2 separate regions of the Homo sapiens genome follow, and region 2 is linked to region 1. A link means that fine-mapping ties the variant in region 1 to the expression of a gene that starts in the linked region. Tissue or cell type: whole blood. Region 1 holds a variant in brackets; the other region holds the start of a gene. All regions are shown on one strand. Distances are from middle to middle.

What was found.
Region 2: ICA1L starts here. The variant in region 1 is fine-mapped to the expression of ICA1L in whole blood (INTERVAL, PIP above 0.99).

Annotation. Positions count from the first base shown.
Region 1 is chr2:202,906,953-202,909,988 of GRCh38, forward strand. WDR12 (WD repeat domain 12) reads right to left here. Exons shown (of 13, transcript NM_018256.4): 2 at 913-1,007. Among named protein-coding and RNA genes, the nearest start is that of WDR12, 3.2 kb to the right of the region's middle. The variant G/A (reference allele first, on the strand shown) is at 1,562.
Region 2 is chr2:202,870,639-202,873,138 of GRCh38, forward strand. ICA1L (islet cell autoantigen 1 like) reads right to left here and starts at 1,128. Exons shown (of 13, transcript NM_001288622.3): 1 at 981-1,128. RefSeq lists silencers at 671-1,160, 1,201-1,250, 1,311-1,440.

The sequences.
Region 1 (3,036 bases):
TCAACATTTTTTTTTTTTTTGAGACTTCCTCTATCACCCAGGCTGGAGTGCAATGGTGCGATCTTGGCTCACTGCAACCTCCGCCTCCCGGGTTCAAGCAATTCTCCTGCCTCAGCCTCCTTAGCAGCTGAGATTACAGGCATGTGCCACCACGCCTGGCTGATTTTTGTATTTTTAGTAGAGACGGGGTTTCACCATGTTGGTCAGGCTGGTCTCAAACTCCTGACCTCGTGATCCACCCGCCTCGGCCTCCCAAAGTGCTGGGATTACAAACTTCAACAATTATTAACTCATAGCCAATCTTATTTCATTGATATTTTTACATACATTGTTCATATTAATTTAATGGGCAAATAACTTATATTAGTACAATAGTATATATTTAATATTTGTATCTTTTAAATGTTTTATATTCTTCCATGTTTTGTTATATCCTTTTTTTATGAATTCTGGACACAAAAAATAAAATACTGGTATTCATACTGTCATTTTGATATTACACTAAACACTCAAATACTGATATTGTCATTTTGCTTTGTGCTTCACTAGTAAATGGGGCCTAAGCACTAAAACGCTTGTTTTATGCCTGCATAACTCAGCCCTCTGTAGAACAATCAATGTCTTGATTACCTCTATATTACAACTTTATACCAAAATCTTTATTCCTTAACTACAACCACCATATTTCCACATGGCCTTAAAAACAGATTAAACAGAAATTTTTTTCTGAAAACTTTTCTTTCAAAGCAGTATTTACAGTATCATCCAGCAGAAGAACCTGTACTTTATAACTTACAAATTTTACCACTACAAAATTCATACAGTATCATAAGGCCAAAAAAGGAACTAAAAACTTAATGCATTTTAGAATAATTAGGGACACTGTGCCCTCTCCTAAGCATATATACCCACCATTTTTGTCCTTTAGTAGTTTATTGATGATGTTACTAAGGTCGGCAATTTCAGAGGCAGCAGGGATTGAGAAGGGAACATCATCTACGGCATATCTATAAAAAGGAAATGATATGTCAAGATCAAGTCTACAGATATTTGAACAAACATGCTTTTACGAATTCAACATACATTTATTGGGTAAATAAATGCCAGACATCCAGACATTTTGCTACATGTTGTAAACAAAAATGAATTAAAACATGGTCTCTGTTCTAAGATGAGGTTGAAGTTTAGTAATCAAATAGAATGAAGTTATATAAGAACAATGCCATTAGGTGACATGTATAAAAAGAACAAAGACACCATAGGTCATTTTAACCACAGAAAAGGAGGGCAGGGGAGCAGGGCCAGAAACGATCCACAGAAAAGATAACTGTTAAGCAACATTTAGAAAAGTGATTAGCCAGGCGTGGTGGCATGTGCCCGTAGTCCCAGCTACTTGGGAGGCTGAGGTGGGAGGACTGCCTGAGCCCAGGAGGTCGAGGCTGCAGTGAGCTGAGATTATACCACTGCACTGCACTCCAGCCTGGGTGACACAGCAAGACCCTGTCTCAAAAGAGAAGTGAGTTTTTGCCAGGTGAGGGAAGGGTAGGCTGGAAGAAGCAGT[G/A]TGGACGAAACCAGAGAGAACATCAAAACAATAGCTAGGAGTTGTTAAACTGCCCAGCCACTTCCAGAAAATCTGACTTTGCTCCAAAGTGACCAAAGGCTAAAGAGATACACATGGAGTGCTTTATATATCATGTGAAATCATTTTTACTTCTTTTTTGTGGGTAATGAAGAACTATCACAGCAGTGCAAATTAGAAGTATCATCAGATTTTATTTAGTTAGATCTTTCTGGCTGCACAATGGGCACTGAAATAGAGGAACACATGACAGGAGGCAGATTAGGAGACTCTTATAAGAGAGACTGTGAGAAAATATTTGCAAATCATGTATCTAATAAGGAACTTGTATCTAGACTATATTAAGAACACTTACAACTCAATAATAAAAAGACAACACAAATTTTAAAATGGCCCAATAGGGACATGCAAATGCTCATCATTAGTCATCCAGGTAATGTTAATCAAACACAATGAAATATAATTTCACATCCACTAGGGTGCTATAAGTAAAAAGACAGCTAATAACAAGTGTCAGTGAAAATATGGAGCAATTGGAACCCTGATTATTGCTGGCAGTAACGTAAAATGGTGCAGTTGCTTTGGAAAACAGTCTGGCAGTTCCTCAAAAACTCAAACATGGAATTACATCTGACCCAAAAACTCCACTCCTAAGCATATATGCAAGAGAAACGAAAACATACATCCACACGAAAACTTGTACGAGTGTTCACATAACAACTATTCATAATAGCTAAAAGGTATAAACAACCTAAATGCCCACCAGCTGATGAATGGAAAAATATGGTACCTCCATTCAATGGCCTATTATTTGGCCACAAAAAGGAATGAAGTGCTAATATATACTATGATATAATGAAACCATTTTTTAAAAATCATAGTAAGTGAAAGAAGCCAGTCACAAAAGATCACATTATATAATTCCATTTATTCAAAACGTCCAGAAGAGAGAAAGTTACAGAGCTAGAAAGTAGATCAGTGGTTGCCTAGGGCTGGGGGTATTATTTAACAAACAGCTCAAGGATGATGAAAAATGTTCTAAAATTGACTGTGGTGATGGTTGCACAACTTTGCAAATATGATGCTGATGATCCTCAAACCACACTTTGAGCAATAAGGCTATAGCTATATATTTATGTATATAATTCACATATATGTATATTCTTGTGTGTGTGTGTGACAATTATATTAGCCCCCCGCCTCCATTTTACTGACCATAATATTAAGCAAAAAGAAAAAGCAAGAATTTTATTATTTATTTATTTATTTATTTATTTATTTGAGATAGAGTCTCACTATGTTCCCCAGGCTGGAGTGCAGTTGCATTGATCCTGGCTCACTGCAACCTCTGCCTCTCAGGCTCAAGAGATCCTCCCACCTCAGCCTCCCAAGTAGCTGGGACCACAGGTGGGCACCACCATGCCTGGCAAATTTTTTGTATTTTTGGTAGAGACGGG
Region 2 (2,500 bases), 37 kb before region 1:
CGTCTTACAGTACGTCGCCTGAGTCAGAACCAAATAAATCAATACATAAATACTTTTGGGAAAAATCAAAACCATGGAAAAATGTTACCTTCCCAACAATCTATTTTACAGAGACCCATAGTTTATAACAGCTTTTATGCTGTGTGCATCAAGATCATCTATTACACGAAAAATGATTCCACCCCCTCTACTGGCAACGCCCCAGCATCGCGGGTGAGCTGCCAGGATGGACTCCCCGCTTTCCCCTCTCCGTCTTCCTTAGAGCATCAGGTATCTGACCACTGACATCACCTGGGCACCTGACCAGCTGACGCGCGTTTCCAGGAGCCATATCTGTGCCGTGGGGTCGGGTTGCCGGCCTAAGGAGCAGGATCTGTGCGCGGAGCCCCTCGCGGGCCCGTGCATTCTGCAGTTCAGCTCAAACTGCACATTTACTATGTTTTGTTTTTATCCATCGGTTGCCAATTAGTTTCTAAGGAAGACATTCCCATTACAAAATAATAGCGAAATAAAAATAAGCACCACGTTAAAAAGAGGTCAGCAGGGAAGCACCTGAAGGCTGTTCGGGTGATCCGCCGCCGCCTCTATTAGGAGCGACCTCCACCGCCGAGGGAAATCACCCAAACGAGCCCCAGGCTGCCGCGCTCCTTCACTACAGCGAGCGTGGCCGGGAGGCGCCCTTCCGCCGCAGGGGACCCAGCCACGCCAGAAACCGCTCCTTGCGGGTTTTGCCTGGGGGGAGGCCGGAAGAACCCCGAGCAGGGCCTCGCCTGGAAGAAGGCCGCAGGCAGCGGCCGGGGTCCCCCAGAGAACCGAGGAGGCCAGCAAGGCCCCGAGAAGCCGCGCGCGCGCGCGTGTGGCCGGAGCCTCCCGCCGCGCCCCCGCCTCCCGGCGTCGCCATGGGAACCCGGGATTTGGTCTCCGGGCCTGACCGCCGCCTGAGGGGGAATAGGGGCGGACAGGAGGCAGCAGAAGCTTACCGGCGCCGCTCTTCCGCCTCCTCGGGTCGCGTTCGGCCGTACGGTGATCCGTCCCGGCACCCGTTCCGGCCACCGCCCGCGAGCCCCGCGCCGACTCCCGGCCCTCCGGCAGCCAGTGCCCCTCCGCACCAGTGCGTGGAGGTGTCAGGCTCCCGCTGCGGGAGGCGGGAGATTTAAACCGCGCGACCTGGCGTCCGCGTTCGCCCCCCTCGGGCGCCGGCCTGACCCCGCCACCGGCCCGACTCGGGATCGGAGCATCTCTCGGTCTGCTCTTGAATGAACTCGGGGACCCTCTCTATTCCTCCTTTCCCGATTTCCTCTTTACTTAATAAAGTGAAATGACAAACACCAAACCGGTCAGAACATTACGAGGAGCTGAGTGTGAGCTCTCTGAGGCGTGGGGAAGTGGAAGGCATTGGCCCGGGGCCCTCCCGGCTCCCTCCGAGCACCCCCACCCCCGGACCTGCCGGGCCTTCTGGGGCGGCCCCTTAGCACCAGTGCTCCTTAGGCGGAAAGCGTTCGCCCGCTGTATTTAACTCCCGTGTTAAAGGTTTAAAGAGGTCTAAGTTAACAACCGTTCATAACCAATCTCAAATGCACATATCCATATCCATAATGTTTATGATGAATCTTCAAGAGTAAAAGGTAAAACCGGATCCTGAAAGTCTCAGGAAAAAAACAAAAAGGAAGGCAAAACTATTTACTACTAGTAGGAGATAATTTAATAAATTCAAACTTCATTCTTTTTAAAGGTGACTCCAAAACTTAAAAGAACTTTCCTAAAACAGCAGAATACGAATTATTAATTACAACTGCGACACATAGGCTAGCAAAGAATTAAAAGGTTAACACTCGAGGTGATAATTAAAATCTGTATGATGACAAAGATGGGGTGAGTCTAGAATTTATTTTATTTTATTTTATTTGAGACGGAGTCTCGCTCTGTCGCCCAGGCCGGAGTACAGTGGCGCGATCTCGGCTCACTGCAAGCTCCGCCTCCCGGGTTCACGCCATTCTCCTGCCTCAGCCTCCCGAATAGCTGGGACTACAGGCGCCTGCCACCACGCCTGGCTAAGTTTTTTGTATTTTTAGTAGAGTCGGGGTTTCACCGTGTTAGCCAGGATGGTCTCGATCTCCTGACCTCGTGATCCGCCCGCCTCGGCCTCCCAAAGTGCTGAGATTACAGGCATGAGCCACCGCGCCCGGCCGAGGTTCTGGAATATTAACAGTACAAAATACTCACCTTAACCTGGAAATTATACTTTTAGAATAGGAAAAGTGGCAAGCTACAGAGGGTTAATTTGGACTGAAAACATTAAATGTCTTTAGACTTTTACCCTGAGATATTTGGATTTCAAGGAATAGGCAAATACCTGAGATTATGTGCAAAATTTTGTTTGTTTTTTTGAGGAGTCTACAGCTTTCCTCAGAAGGGTAAAAATTAGCGTTTGGCAAACATGAGTGATTGACCTATTTCCTTGGGATGGCTTTCCTGAATCTTACCAAATGAGGCATTTCTC